2 separate regions of the Homo sapiens genome follow, and region 1 is linked to region 2. Evidence: fine-mapped expression QTL. Tissue or cell type: prefrontal cortex. Region 2 holds a variant in brackets; the other region holds the start of a gene. All regions are shown on one strand. Distances are from middle to middle.

Region 1 (8,181 bases), 51 kb after region 2:
GAGGCAGAGCTTGCAGTGAGCTGGGATCATGCCACTGCACTCCAGCCTGGGCGACAGAGCGAGACTCCGTCTAAAAAAAAAATAAAATAAAAAAAGAACAAGATAAAAAAAGAAAGGAAGACCCTTCCTTTGTCTGAAGGTATTCCTTGGATCACCTTCAACTCAAGAGCAGAATGACCATATTCCAAGACTAGGATCCTTACTTCTCATGAAAGATTATAACCACTTGTGGTAGGCAGGCAGGATGACACCCCCCATGAAAGACCCACATCCTAATCCCCCAAACCTGTGAATGTTATCTTACAAGACAAAAGGGTCTTTGCAGATCTGACTAAATTAAGGGCCTTGAGATTCTGCTTAGCTGGGTGGGCGCAGTGTAATCACAAGAATCCTTGTAGAGTGAGGCAGGAGAGCTAGAGTCAGGAAGGAGAAAGGGATGGGAGAGAGAGGGTAGGGGGGAGAGGAGATGCAACCCTTGGTTCTGAAGATGAAGAAGCAGCAAGGAAACAGATTCTCCCCCGGGAACCATCACAATAAATATAACCAACCAGACACTTTCATATTACGACTTCTGACTTCTAAAACCGTAAGAGAATAAATTTATATAGTCACTAAGTGATCATGTGTTACTGCAGCAATAGGAAACTGATACACCACCATACTGTATAATAAAGGTTTAATCTTTTAAATAGTTGAATGCACCCGTAATCAAAAACACAGAAAAACTATATTCCAAATCTTGCTAGAGAACAGCCTCAGTTCTGAGTCCCAGATCTTTATCAAAATCAAGAGTGAATGAAGTGCTATTTACGAGGCATCACCTCTTAACAGGGGCGCACGGCCCTCTATGCCAGTCCTCCAAATATCCTTGCCTCAAGTAAGTTGGATTAAGTAGACTAGAAAACTGCTCACTGGGACCATATTTCCTCCCAAAACTGCTTTCTCTGAGCTGTGTATCTCACTTTTAATCCAGGGACAGTAAGAAATCTGAAAAATGGGGATAAGTGTCACACAGGGAGCTACCATCGACTGGTTACTATATCACACCGTCCCAGTACTCCACACAGGCTCTCATTCACAGAGAGCTACCATTGACTGGTTACTATATCACACCGTCCCAGTACTCCACACAGGCTCTCATTCACAGAGAGCTACCATTGACTGGTTACTGTATCACACCGTCCCAGTACTCCACACAGGCTCTCATTCACAGAGAGCTACCACTGACTGGTTACTGTATCACACCGTCCCAGTACTCCACACAGGCTCTCATTCACAGAGAGCTACCATTGACTGGTTACTGTATCACACCGTCCCAGTACTCCACACAGGCTCTCATTCACAGAGAGCTACCATTGACTGGTTACTGTATCACACCGTCCCAGTACTCCACACAGGCTCTCATTCACAGAGCTACCATTGACTGGTTACTATATCACACCGTCCCAGTACTCCACACAGGCTCTCATTCACAGAGAGCTACCATTGACTGGTTACTGTATCACACCGTCCCAGTACTCCACACAGGCTCTCATTCACAGAGCTACCATTGACTGGTTACTATATCACACCGTCCCAGTACTCCACACAGGCTCTCATTCACAGAGCTACCATTGACTGGTTACTATATCACACCGTCCCAGTACTCCACACAGGCTCTCATTCACAGAGAGCTACCATTGACTGGTTACTGTATCACACCGTCCCAGTACTCCACACAGGCTCTCATTCACAGAGAGCTACCATTGACTGGTTACTGTATCACACCGTCCCAGTACTCCACACAGGCTCTCATTCACAGAGAGCTACCATTGACTGGTTACTGTATCACACCGTCCCAGTACTCCACACAGGCTCTCATTCACAGAGAGCTACCATTGACTGGTTACTGTATCACACCGTCCCAGTACTCCACACAGGCTCTCATTCACAGAGCTACCATTGACTGGTTACTATATCACACCGTCCCAGTACTCCACACAGGCTCTCATTCACAGAGAGCTACCATTGACTGGTTACTATATCACACCGTCCCAGTACTCCACACAGGCTCTCATTCACAGAGAGCTACCATTGACTGGTTACTGTATCACACCGTCCCAGTACTCCACACAGGCTCTCATTCACAGAGAGCTACCATTGACTGGTTACTGTATCACACAATCCCAGTACTCCACAGGCTCTCATTCACAGAGCTACCATTGACTGGTTACTATATCACACCGTCCCAGTACTCCACACAGGCTCTCATTCACAGAGAGCTACCATTGACTGGTTACTATATCACACCGTCCCAGTACTCCACACAGGCTTTCATTCACAGAGCTACCATTGACTGGTTACTGTATCACACCGTCCCAGTACTACACACAGGCTCTCATTCACAGAGAGCTACCATTGACTGGTTACTGTATCACACTGTCCCAGTACTCCACACAGGCTCTCATTCACAGAGAGCTACCATTGACTGGTTACTGTATCACACCGTCCCAGTACTCCACATATGCTCTCATTCAGTTTTCATGACAACCCCTACGAGGGAGGCCACTGGTGTCCCCATTTCACACAAGAAGAAACGCAGGCAAACAGCACCCACTGCCTCCTGGGGCACACTCACCTCCCAGGACTGTTTTAAGGATGAGATGAGGTAACCCACATAAAGCATGTAAGGTAAAAGCCATCACTTGTACTTATCCCAGCAGCAGCCTTCCCCCTGCCTGGAGGCCATCACTGAGCTTGGGGCAGGGCAGTGGAGTGGAGCACGTGAGTGCAGTCCTGTGTCCTGAAGCAGGGCAGTCAGTAACCGTCTCTAAGCTCCAAGTTCCAACACACCATGTAGACCCTAAGGGTACCTGCCTCTCTAGGGCTTGCCTGATATGGACAGACAGCGATGAGCACAACAGCAGTTAGGGATCCTTACCACTTGGTTTCTCCTCTGGGAAGAATTTTGTTCAGCTAAGTGTCTGTAAAAAGCTTCACGTTCTCACACGTTTTTTCTATTTTTTTTTTTTTGAGACAGAGTTTCATTCTTTGTTGCCCAGCCTGGAGTGCAATGGCGCGATCTCGGTTCACCGCAACCTCCGCCTGCCGCGTTCAAGTGATTCTCCTGCCTCAGCCTCCTGCGTAGCTGGGATTACAGGCATGCGCCACCACGCCCCGCTAATTTTGTATTTTTTTAGTGGAGACGGGATTTCTCCATGTTGGTCAGGCTGGTCTCGAACTCCTGACCTCAGGTGATCCTCCTGCCTCGGCCTCCCAAAGTGCTGGGATTACAGGTGTGAGCCACCGCGCCGGGCCTCATCCGTTTTCTGCTTATGGCAGGCCAGTCCTCCGGTCATGTTTACCGTTTGCTCTGGCCACCAAGCAGCCGCGTCTTATCCTTGCTCTATTTTTTTTGAGACTGGGTCTGGCTCCGTCGCCCAGGCTGGAGTGCGGTGGCGCGATCCCGGCTCACAGCAGCCTTGACCTGCCGGGCTCAGGTGAACCTCCGGCTCGGATTCGGGAGTATTAATAGCTGGGACCTCGGGCGCGCACCACCAGCCTGTCTAATTTTTCTTGTTTTTACAAGAGAAGGGCCGGGCGCGGAGTCTCACGTCTGTAATCCCAGCACTTTGGAAGGCCGAGGCGGGCGGATCACCTGAGGTCAGGAGTTCGAGACCAGCCTGGCCAACATGGTGAAACCCGGTCTCTACTAAAAATACAAAAACTAGCCGGGCCTGGTGGCGGGCGCCTGTAATTCCAGCTACTCGGGAGGCTGAGGCAGCGGGATCGCTTGAACCCGGGAAGCAGAGGTTGCAGTGAGCCGAGATCGCGCCACTGCACTCCAGCCTGGGCGACAGAGCGGGACTCCCTGCCCAAAAAAATAAAACAGAGGAGACGAGGTCTCTCTCTGTAGCCCAGGCTGATCTAGAACAGGATCCTGGGCTCCAGCGATCCGCCCGCCTCGGCCTCCCCCAGCGCTAGGCCCCCAGGCAGGGTCCCCGGCCCCGCCCCTCCCCGCACCCTCCCCAGCCGCGCGTCCACCCCGCAGGGCCTGGCCCGGGTCCCGCCGCTCTCATCGCCCCCGCCGCGCGGCAGGTCCCAAACGCAGCTGCGCGGAAGGCGAGGCCCGAAAAACCTCAGAAAGAGCCGAGCAGGGAAAGGCCGCGCGGCCCGCCTCGTTTCCCCGCAAAGAAGCCGCGCCCGTAGCGCCTCCGCCCGCCCCGAGCCCCTCCGTCGGCGGTCGGGGCGCGCCGCCCTACCCCAGTCAGGCGCGGCGAGTGCGGGCGGCTGCGGGAACCGGGCCTCCCTCCCGCCTCGGCGGCGCCAGCCGAGGACGGCCCCATGGCACCCTCCGGAGGGCCGGCCCGAGAGCCTCAGGAGGGCGCCCCTCACCTGCTGGCCTCGCCATCCGCGCCTGGGTCCGCGCGCCGCCGCCCGCCGCTCCTCAGAGACATGGAGCCGTTGGCTACCACCTCTGCTTCAGGGGAGAAATTTGGCGCGCTCCCACCCAGACTCGCGAGAGCCGGAAATGCCGCCGTCCATCAAGAGGCGCGCTCCGCCCCTCCCCCGCCCCCCGAGGCGCTCCAATTGGCGCCGGCGCCCGGCGGGGGAGGTGGCCGGCAGGGACCGGGGAAAAGTGTGTGGTAGGCGCGCGCGGCGCACCGTGGGGTTGGGACCGGGCGGCGCTGCGGGCCGCGGTGGGGCCGGAAATGTCAGGCGGTCCCCACTCCGCTCTCGGCGCCTCGGGCTCCGCGCCCGGCCAGCCTGAGGTGGGGTCGGTGCCCCCGGCGGCACGGCGCTGGGGAGGCGATGGCGCCGGCCGCGTCCAGGCTGCGGGCCGAAGCCGGGCTCGGGGCGCTGCCGCGGCGGGCGCTCGCCCAGTACCTGCTCTTCCTGCGGCTCTACCCGGTGCTCACCAAGGCGGCCACCAGGTGAGCGGGGGCGCGGGAATCGGACGCCGCCCCGGCCCCAGGTCGGCCGCAGCGGCGCGGGGCCTGGACGGGAGCGCCGGGCCGGGACCAGGCTGGGGGCGCGCCCGGGTCAGAACCCCCGGAGCGGGCGCCCTCCGACCCGGCGCTGAACTTCCCGCGGCGACACCCGCGTCCGCAGTCAGCGATTGTGAGGCGCCTTGCGGATCCCGCCCTCCCAGCGCGTGGAGGGCCCGCCCAGACCCGGGGGTCGGCGCTGAGGTTCCACCCAAGGACCCAACAGGGGCCCCGCGCGCCCGGGGAAGCCACGGCAAGGGGAGCGGGTCCGCAGGCGCGGGTGAAGACAGGGCGAGGGGAGCGGGTCTGCGGGGCGCGGGTGAAGACAGGGCGAGGGGAGCGGGTCTGCGGGGCGCGGGTGAAGACAGGGCGAGGGGAGCGGGTCTTGGGGGCGCGGGTGAAGACAGGGCGAGGGGAGCGGGTCTGCGGGGCGCGGGTGAAGACAGGGCCAGGGGAGCGGGTCTGCGGGGCACGGGTGAAGACAGGGCCAGGGGAGCGGGTCCTCATGGAGCGTGTGGAGACAGGGCCAAGGGAGCGAGTCTGCGGGGCGCGGGTGAAGACAGCGCCAGGGGAGCGGGTCTTGGGGGCGCGGGTAAAGACAGGGCCAGGGGAGCGGGTCCTCATGGCGCGGGTGGAGACAGGGCCAAGGGAGCGGGTCTGCGGGGCGCGGGTGAAGACAGGGCCAAGGGAGCGGGTCTGCGGGGCGCGGGTGAAGACAGGGCGAGGGGAGCGGGTCTGCGGGGCACGGGTAAAGACAGGGCCAAGGGAGCGGGTCTGCGTGGTGCGGGTGAAGACAGGGCCAGGGGAGCGGGTCTGCGGGGCACGGGTGAAGACAGGGCGAGGGGAGCGGGTCTTGGGGGCGCGGGTGAAGACAGGGCCAGGGGAGCGGGTCTGCGGGGCACGGGTGAAGACAGGGCGAGGGGAGCGGGTCTTGGGGGCGCGGGTGAAGACAGGGCCAGGGGAGCGGGTCTGCGGGGCACGGGTGAAGACAGGGCGAGGGGAGCGGGTCTTGGGGGCGCGGGTGAAGACAGGGCCAGGGGAGCGGGTCTGCGGGGCACGGGTGAAGACAGGGCCAGGGGAGCGGGTCCTCATGGAGCGTGTGGAGACAGGGCCAAGGGAGCGAGTCTGCGGGGCGCGGGTGAAGACAGCGCCAGGGGAGCGGGTCTTGGGGGCGCGGGTAAAGACAGGGCCAGGGGAGCGGGTCCTCATGGCGCGGGTGGAGACAGGGCCAAGGGAGCGGGTCTGCGGGGCGCGGGTGAAGACAGGGCCAAGGGAGCGGGTCTGCGGGGCGCGGGTGAAGACAGGGCGAGGGGAGCGGGTCTGCGGGGCACGGGTAAAGACAGGGCCAAGGGAGCGGGTCTGCGTGGTGCGGGTGAAGACAGGGCCAGGGGAGCGGGTCCACATGGAGCGTGTGGAGACAGGGCCAAGGGAGCGAGTCTGCGGGGCGCGGGTCCGCACGGCGCGGGTGGAGACACGGCCAGGGAAGGTGTTTTGAGAAGGTGACATTGAACAGGCTGTGTAAAGAAGTGGAGCAGAGGCTCTCCTGGCACAGGGAACAGCAGGGCAAAGGTCTCTGTTAGGTTTTGAAGGGAAGGCCGGCGTTAAAGAAAGGCGGAGAGAGGTGCAGCTTGGACTCAGTCCCGAGGGAGGGAAGATCTGTGTGTGGAGAAAGTGAACCCTGAGCAAGAGGCAGGAGATGTGAAGGGAATCGCCAGGGATCTGATCGAGAAGGTGTCTAGGTCCGTGCTAGGAATTTTGGATTTTATAGTCCAGAGAGCTTCTCAGAAGGCAAATACAAACCAAGGCCTGGAGGGAGCCACTGGGCCTGTTCCACCTTTTTATGGAAATTTTTATTGTGATAATTGTAGATTCACAAACAGTTACAAGACTAACATGGAGAGATTCCTTGCACACCTTCCCAGTGTCCCCCATTGGTTACATTCTGTGAAACGTAGTGCAGTATCGACCAGGGCATTGCGTGGACACAGTCCACAGATCCTATTCGGATTTCTCCATTTTTCTTGTAGCTGTATCTGTTCTGTACAGTTTTATCACATCTGTACATTCTTGTGTTCACTACCACAGTCAAAATGCAGAACAGCGTCATGATAGGGCTGTCCTGTTGCCCGTTCATAACCACACAGCTTCCCAACTCCCAAACTGCCAAATTATAGTATAACATCACAGCCAGGATGTTGACATAGATACTGGAAAGCCACTTGTCCTTACCTGTGTGTTTAAGTCCACCGTCTCCACCTTTTGATACAAGAACTATACATTGCAGCCGCTTTAACAAGAATTCCTACCCCCCGCCCATCTGCTGCATGGCCTCAGAACGGCCCTGCTAATTCACCTATGGGAAAGGGACACCCTCCTGCTGGTCACTGCTGTTTTCTGATGACCTCCCTCTCCACAGTGGCATTTTGTCAGCACTTGGGAACTTCCTGGCCCAGATGATTGAGAAGAAGCGGAAAAAAGAAAACTCTAGAAGTCTGGATGTCGGTGGGCCTCTGAGATATGCCGTTTACGGGTGAGTGCCATACAAGGGGTGGGTTTACCTTGTAGCCGCTGAGTGCAACCAAGCTGGGCACCAAAACCGAGTAGTTGGAGTACTCTTATTTGGAAATATAATTTTTTAAAAACCATTGTAGTAATCATCATGGGAAAAAACTCGAATGGTTCATATAGTTTGTATGGCATATATACGCATACGTGGTTTTTTTTGTTTTTTCTTTTTTTTTGGAGACAGAGTCTCACTCTGTCACCCAGGCTTACTGCAACCTCTGCCTCTCTGGTTCAAGTGATTCTCCTGCCTCAGCCTCTCAAATAGCTGGGATTACAGGCACACACCGCCATGCCCAGCTAATTTTTGTTATTTTTAGTAGAGATGGGGTTTCACCATGTTGGCCAGGCTGGTCTTGAACTCCTGACCTCAAGTGATCCACCTTCCTTGGCCTCCCAAAGTGCTGGGATTACAGTGCTAGGAGTACAGGCTCACATTTGTGGTTTTATCATGTTTCTTTTTAATTGGATGGGTAGGGGTGACTGTCTTAATTGGGCTGAGAGGCAAACCTGAGGACAAGTAACTCAACTTAACCTAAAGTCAGACTTCAGGATTCAAAAACCCTGAAAGCGTCCTAGACTGGGCTCATGGAAAGGGAAAACTGACTCCAATTTGACCAGTTAGTTTCTATTGTTATTTTAATTTTTTTTT
Region 2 (8,141 bases):
CTCTGCTCTGTAAGGGCTGACACCCGCGGTCGTTATCTGGTAATATTATCCCTCCTTGGACTCAGCCTGCCTTTCCCAGAAAGGCCTCAGCATCCGAGCAAGCTCTCATCTCATCAGCTCTGGGTCCTGGTCCAGCCTACTGGTCTCCGGTGACCCATCCTCCCAGCCGGTGGCACTGGGTGTTCGGCTGTGCCTTCACCAACACACCAAGCTCACCCCCCAGGGCCTTTGCGTCTTCCCTCCTCCTGCACCTGGTCCCAGCGCCCCTCACAGGCTCCATCCCCACAGCACCTGCGCCTCTGAACGGCCCTCTCCCTTCTCGGGTCGGCTGGCAGCAGACAGGCCCCACAAGGCAGGACCTTTCCTGTCTTGCTCACACCTGAGCACAGATGCCGCAACTGTGGCTGCATGTGACAGGGACATGATAAATGTTGGTGGAATGAACAAGTAACTTACACCTGCTCCTCACCTTGCACACGCTGGCACCCTGACCCTACACATGTAGGTACCTCCCCCTTGCACAGCTGAAAGCCTCATCCTGCATTCATTAACATCCTTACCATGCACAGGTATGTCGGTGTCCTTATCTTGCACACATACGCTAGCACGTTCATGGTGCACGCATTACAGCCTCACCTTGCACACAGTAACATTCTCGCCTTACACATGTACGTTAGTGTCCTCTCCTCACACGCACGCTGGCACTCTCACCTTGCACACGTATTTGATGAACTCCAGGGCAGGGTTATTGAGCAGCAAGTGGGAACCGGGGAGGACAGGAAACATCTCTGAGAGCTCAGTGGAGTTCCGAGAGCCTGTGACTTTCTTCTGAATCTTCTGAGTGATGGTGAAGAAGCTCTGAGTGAGCTCATTTGCGACATAATCCTGAGAGAAGGTGATCATTCCTGGAAGTATAAGGATGCTGAGGGAGGGGTCTGGGACCTGTCTGGCACTGGGGACCTCCCACCTGGGGGACTGGCACCGGGGACCACCCATGGCACACAGAGGAGTTAGGTCACTGGCACATGGCAGTGGCCTCAAAAGACAAAAGACTGCTCACCGGGAAGGGCTCCGACCGCCCCCTCGGCCTCCTGGGAGAGCTGGCTGGCCCCCCTCCTCCTCACGGGGGTGCTCCCTGGAGCACTGCGCCTCAGCCCGTCCTTCATGCAGTGGTACACGGCCACGATGTACGCTGTGGAGAGGCACACACACCACAGGCCCTGAGTCGGGCTGCTGCAAACACCCTAGAATCTGAGGGGACCCATGGCTGGTCAGATTGCCTCACAGATGAGGCTAAAATGTCATTGTTAATAATTTTATCTGCAGCCTTTAGATGAGCTAAAAGTAAATTAGAGAAGTGAGAAGTGGAAATGAGAAGGAACACTCGCTGACACCTGAGTTCATTGTCAGAGAGAAAACTGTATAAATGGGGCCATGTACACTAAGCCTCTCACTGGGTAGCGCGTGAAAGACAGCTCCCAACACAAGCAAAGGCAGGGCCCCTGGCATCAGCAAGCTTCTCCAAAAACTACTCCGGGCCTGTCACCTGGCACTTACCCTTTTTTTTTTTTTTTTTTGAGACACAGTTTCATTCTTGTTGCCCAGACTGTAGTGCAATGGCGCAATCTCAGCTCACTGCAACCTCCGCCTCCTGGGTTCAAGTGATTCTCCTGCCTCAGCTTCCTGAGTAGCTGGTATTAAAGGTGTGCGCACCACACCTGGCTACTTTTTGTATTTTTAGTAGAGATGGGGTTTCACCATGTTGGCCAGGCTGGTCTCAAACTCTTGACCTCACGTGATCCACCCGCCTCAGCCCCCTAAAGTGCTGGGATTACAGGCATGAGCCACTGCGCCCGGCCAACCCGGAACTTTTCAAAAGAGACATAGAAAGTTGCAAGAGAGAACTGAGAAAGTTAAAGACTCAAGGACAAGTAGACAAAAATATAAAATGATCATCAACGAAGGCCTCTGTGACCGCATCCACCTGTGTGTGCACATCACAACCTGCTGTTTTTACTTAGGGCATTCTTTAACTTAGGGCTGTCAACTACAAACAGTGCTTCCTCGATACACTTCATCTGCACACTAACCTGCATAGCTTGATTTGCAAACTCTAAGCCTGCAGACCCAAACCAAGGCATAGGAACTCCCCCACCAGAAAGTTAGGCCTCACAGACCAGCCAGGGGGCAGCTGACCTGACCCAGGGCTTTATCTTCAGCTACTGAACGTGCACACACACAAATGTTCCCTGGGAATGTATGTGACTGAGTTACCGAATCAGATGGCGGGAGCAGAGCTAGGAAACTCCTCAATGACACGGCCAGGGGCAGCCGCTCCCCATGGAGTTTCCTGAGAGCAAAGGCTGGAGGGAAGACAGTCACCCCTCTCCGGGCCCTCCAGTGGAACATGCCTGGAGCCTGGAGAGGAGGCCCCTCGGCTCACAAAGTCCCAACTGCTGGGCAGGCTCCGCCCGATCTGATTTTCCCTGTCTCCCTTCTTGCGATACCATGGCACAGGAGCCACATCTACTAACCATGAGTCCCTTCAGTGGGGGCTGCGCAGCCCTGGGCTCTGGGCTTACCTGAAACAATCATGAGGAAGTAGTTCTGGCAGGAGGCTGCCTGTGGCAAAAACTGCAAAATGTTCCAGTTGTTTTCCAGTAAATCCTCCACGTTGGATTCCTCCGCCTCTTCCTCCTCCTCCCCATCTCTTTCCTCCTCATCGTCCTCATTTTCCTGCTCATCCTCTGCTCCCCCTGCTTTCTGGGAGTCTTGCTGTAACACATGAGACAACGCGGCTGTGTTTGCACCATCGCGGCCTGGTAGAGGGGTAGGATGCCACAGCGAAGGCTCCTCCAACCTGGGTCCATCTGCCCCGTTTGACCAGAGGCCTTCCTCGCAGTCAAGGCATCCCCTGGAGCCTGCGTGAATCCCCCAGGGTGGCTCCCAGTACAAAGTGCTTTGTGGGAAGCGCCTGGCACACAGAAGTGCTCGTGACCTGGGACTGTGAGCTTCACTCTGCTCTTCCAGAGTTCACTTTAATTGTTGAACTCCCACCCCCCAAGGACGAAAGAACCAGCCAGAGCTTCCCGGTGACTGTTCTCTCCTCTGAGTCCATGAATCTCCTGGGACGGCACGACCCCATCACAGACCCAGCCTCCCGCGCAGCCTGTGTTCGTGCCACGGCACCATCCACGTCTGTGTAGACACCGACACCCACTGCCACCTGCCCTGACCACACGCTGATCCCCTCCTCAGAGCGGTCTACACTGCCTGAGTTTCTACCCTCCCACTTTGTTCTGAATCCCTTCAATCAGGGTTTATCCCCCAACTCCAACCAGAATCGCTCCCATCCAGGTGTCCTGGGCAGTCTTGGCTTCATCCTGCCAGCTCCCAGAAGCGTCTGCGTCCTTACAAAGGGCTTTCCCTCTGACATCTGAGCCCCTGGCTCTGGTACCCACAGCTTCCTCTCAGTCCACTATGAGGGCCCCTGTGGAGGACACAGGCCTCCTCTCAACCCACCCAGCCACTCTCTGGCCACTCCTGCACCAGCTGACCACCCACGTCTCAACCTTGCAAACACCATGAGCCCCAGCCAGACGTGACCCCTTCCCCAGACTGCTCCCGACAGCCACCTCCACTCACCCACAGCCTGGCCCGCACCTGGGCATTTACACACATCCGATCCGCTGGCCCCTTGGCTCCACTTCAAAGCCCACCCAGGCCCTTCTCACCAACCTCGCTGCCCAGCATCTCCCTGACACAGGCACTAACCGGCTTTACCTGCCTGTGCCCTCCAATGGTGGGTTATCCACATGGGGCCAAGAAAGCTCCAACATCACCCACACAGAAGCTCCCATCCCCACGAAAGCCGAGGCCCTGCCCTGCCATGCCCAAGTTGCCTGGCTCTGTCAGCTCTCTGCCTGCATCTGCAACCACTGCTCCACTGACTTGTGCTTTGCCTCCCTGGTGTCCATCCGCTGGAGGCGCCTTATGCTCGCACAACTATGGTGCACTTCATCAGCTCTCGGATTCCCTGTCACCACCTCATGGGCCTCCACCTCCCTGTTGCCCACGGCAAGCCTTGCCATCACCAGGGCTGACGCCACACTCCACACTGACGTGCTTGTCTGCGCATGGTCCCTCCCCGTGTTCATGAGGGCAGGATGCGGGTGCAGTGTCTGCTGCTCACGGCCAGGCCCGCCGGGGCCCTGAGCACTCAGCACTTGCTGCAGGAATGAACGCGACCCCCAAAGCTGGCTCGGGTGCCACACTGCAGCTCGCTTACCAGTCCACAGTGAATACGAGATGAAACTTTTCCTTTGATTCCGCCATAGTTAGATGGATCCATCCAGAGAAGAAATTCCCAGCATCGAGAGAAAGAAATTGTCAGAGAATGGAAGGTCTCCTTTGAATGGATGCTGCAGAGGAAGCATTGAAGACGCTGCTTCAGTGAAATCGACCTTGTTCTCAACTTTCCTTTATTTCCCCTTGTATCTATCTGTACCCTCCACTTACTTAACACTGAATTTGAAAGTTCATTCAGACCACATCATCCCTCAGGCTTCCTGGGGAAATGTGGTAAACGTAAAACTAAGGAGGCCCACCAGGCCCCTGGGAGCTGGCGCCACAAAGAGAGCTGGGTGCCTCCTCGTGCTGGGGATGGCCCACAGGGTGTTCTGCCTCTGCTCTGCGGCCTTAGGTGACCTGCACCTGCTGGTAACCAACCACAGTGCTTCCCACTGCCAAGCTCTTTTAAGCTATCGTCATC[C/G]TTGTCACTCCTCGGTTAAGCCTCCCTAGCGCTGACCCAATCCTCTGCACATTAGATCCATTTAAGGAAAAAAAAAAAAAAAAAAAAAAAAAAAGAACAGGCCAGGCACGGTGGCTCACGCCTGTAATCCTAGCACTTTGGGAGGCTGAGGCAGGAGGATCGCCTGAGTTCAGGAGTTCAAGACCACCCCAGGCAACGTGGCAAAACCCTGTCTCTACAAAAAATACAAAAATTGGCTGGGCATGCTGGCATGCACCTCTAGTCCCATCTACTCAGTGGGCTGAGGTGGGCAGATAGCTTGAGCCCAGAGTTTGAGGCCGCAGTGAGCCATGACTGCACCACTGCACTCCAGCCTGGGTGACAGAGCAAGACCCCATCTCCTAAAAAACAAACAAAACCCCAAAAAATGGAAGAATAAACAAAGAAAGAGAGGAAGGAAGGAGGAACATCCTAAATCACAGTTTCAAAATGCAGCTGAGTAGCCCACATCGCAGCTCCTGCAGGAGAACTTTATGTTCTCCCTAACTCTGCTCTTCGCGCTAAGGAAGAATAGCAGCCTGTTTCTCGACATGAGCAACCCCGGCCTCCTCAGGTACAGGGCACCCCTGGAGCTGCCCATGGCCAACGTGGGGAGAGGCACATCCTTCCCATTATCTCAGCCATGCTCCGAAATACAATTCTAGCCCAAGCCAGCTTTCCCAGGCACACAGCGTGACCACTGACCATCAAGGCTCATCTTGGATAGACATAAGGGGCCACAGTGGGTCTGCAGGAGGACAACAGTGCTTTTGTGTTTCAAATTAATCCAGTGCATATGGTTTGATTAGGAATGAAAGTCTTATAAGCTCTACCTTCCTACTTCTCAGTGATAAGGCCTATTATCAATTTAGTGTCAGCCTTTTCTGCAGCGCCCCCAGATGCTACCCCTGTAACCATGCAAAGATCAGACCCATGCAGACTCTCTGTGCCTCCACAAGCAACTCCCCTCTGTGCTCAGAAAGGGCTGCATTCATCCCCAGGGTGAGCGCACCTAGGAGGGAGCTTCCTACTATCAGTTGAACAAAAGTTGCTGGTGGAGATTTTTCTGTTGCTTTGTCTTCTATTTAGATTTAAATAGTGCTGAGTGTGTGAGAAGCACAGCAAGGCCTAGGAGGGAACCTCAGGAACATGGCCTGGAAGGCAGGAAGTCAAAACCACACCAGGCTCTGACAGCTGAGAGCTGTGCACACCTGAGCACCCGGGAACCACACCACTCCACTCGCCAACACTGACGTCTATGAAAAGGCTTACAACGTCAACACTTACGGGGTGCATATATTCAGGGCACCTTGAATCTGTGCCCTGAATATCCATGGGGAAAAAAAGCAAACAAACAAAAATCACTGTGGAACCTTCTTAGCAAAGGCAGGCCACTTCCTGAACTTGCCCAACTCAAGCTGCACAGCTGAGTGGCCTCCGATCTGCTACCGCGCACAGGTGGCGGTAACCCCCTTTTCACGCTGCTCAGATTCACCATGGTGAGTCCTGCACTTCTAACGACCTCCCAGCCCACCCAGGAGGAGAGCTGGCACCTCAGGGGGTCATTTTAGCATCCCTCTCAAAGCCACAGTGCTGCGTCACCAGGACCAGCCAGCCGCACCTGCTGGTGATGTACTCCACGTAAGCGATGGCATCTTCCACACGGCGCTTCTTTGTACAGAGGATGATGCGGTTGAAGTTGGCGTAGATGACTGATGACCCCAGGCGCTTGAACTCAGCGATGAGCCTGTGGAGCAAGTTGAGAGTCCGTGGTGGAGACGCCACAGTCATGGAGAGCCAGAGGGCACCCAGAAAATCCAAGAGGGAAAAGAGCTGAGGGTCCTGAAGCAGAAAAGCCTCCGAGATACACTAGAACCCAGAAGCTAATGAAGAGCAAAGATTTCTGCATGGCAAAAATCCACCACAAACAAAGGCAAAAGATAACCAAAAACAGGAAAAAATTAGCAAATTCTTATCACAGAAAAATGGCAACTTTTTGTATGGAGACAACTCATTCGATATTTAATAAGAGAAGAACCACCAAAACTACAGAAAAATAGACAAAGGACTAGAAGAGAAAATTCGACTTCATTCATTGTAAGAATCCTAAGTTAAGACTGCACCAAGAAGCACTTTTATCCCAGCAGTTGGGTAATAATCCCCGGCCATGTTGGTGAGGCGCGGCCAGGGAAGAAGTGTCCACAAGGGGCCTCTGTGGGGCCGCTCTGGTGAAGTCCATCAAATCAGGATTCATCCCGAGTTACAACACCTCTGAGGCCTGCAAGAGGGCTACGCCCCAGCAATTACCCCACGGATCTATCTGCATGAGCTCATGCATGAAGCCTCTCACTGATTTGCTATTTGTAACAACGGCACAAGGCTGGAGAGAGGCTAAATGTTCTTTCATATGGCATGTCCTCACACAGATCTCCTGACACAGGCATATTTTCACTAAAACAACAAGGCACACAGCAATACAATGTGTAGCATGACTTTGTGCAGGAAAGGGGCAGGAGAGGAGGTGCCACCTAGTGTTCTCTGCAGGATGTGCAGGCGACGCTGCAGCAGCAGCTGCGTGTTTCTCTGGGATCCTTTGGATTGTTATGCTCCACAAACTCAGAAATACACTACTTATCCCAGAGGCACTGGCTGGCCATGTCTCTGGTTCTGGGGAGTAAGGGACCAGCCCAGCTGAGGACGCGGTGGACAGCCCAGGGAGGAGGAGCACTCACTGCAGGAAGAGCTTCTTCATCATGTTGTGGAGTGTGCGGTGCAGGGCAGGGTCATGAAGCAGAGAGGATGGCGACCGAAGCCAGCGGTAGAAGTGCATCACCTGGTTGTCTGCATAGATGTTGTGGTACTGGGTGATCTCCTTCACCCAGCCCACGACCATGCTCTTCAGGATCCTGAAAGAGAAGGTGCACGACACCCTCGTACCCTCAGCCTCCCACGCTGCTGCCACGCGGGACGCTCCAACTGAAATGGGCACAGGTTTTCCCTACACGGCTGGGTCCAAATCCGTCACTGTCGCCTCCCCTTCTCACTGTCCCCACCTTAAGTCACGGTCCAAATTTCATCCCTTCACCCTCATGCCTCATCTGTTTCTTCCCATTTCATTCCTTAAACTTGTTCAGGCTTCACCGCATCCCAAACTCTGTGTGTTCTAAAGCAGGACGGGAGGGCAGCACAGTACAAAGCAGCAAGTGTGTGACGGGCCGGGGACCCTGACAGGAAGGACACAGCAAAGCCACTGCCTAGACATCAGAACACCACACTAGGCCGGATGCAGAGGCTCACGCCTGTAATCCCACCACTTTGGGAGGCCGAGGCAGGTGGATCACCTGAGGTCAAG

What was found. PIP is the estimated chance that this variant, and not a neighbour inherited with it, causes the effect.
Region 1: it holds the start of PXMP2, and the variant in region 2 is fine-mapped to the expression of PXMP2 in prefrontal cortex (GTEx, PIP 0.96). The same link has a PIP of 0.9 or more in skeletal muscle.

Annotation. Positions count from the first base shown.
Region 1 is chr12:132,682,880-132,691,060 of GRCh38, forward strand. PXMP2 (peroxisomal membrane protein 2) reads left to right here and starts at 4,708. Exons shown (of 5, transcript NM_018663.3): 1 at 4,708-4,913; 2 at 7,384-7,497. The coding sequence starts at 4,792. It overlaps POLE (DNA polymerase epsilon, catalytic subunit), which reads right to left and starts at 4,463. Exons shown (of 49, transcript NM_006231.4): 1 at 4,375-4,463. The coding sequence starts at 4,436. RefSeq lists a silencer at 3,914-5,223.
Region 2 is chr12:132,631,604-132,639,744 of GRCh38, forward strand. POLE (DNA polymerase epsilon, catalytic subunit) reads right to left here. Exons shown (of 49, transcript NM_006231.4): 40 at 7,522-7,695; 41 at 6,411-6,536; 42 at 4,289-4,421; 43 at 2,583-2,775; 44 at 1,061-1,192; 45 at 712-905. Among named protein-coding and RNA genes, the nearest start is that of P2RX2, 17 kb to the left of the region's middle. The variant C/G (reference allele first, on the strand shown) is at 4,772.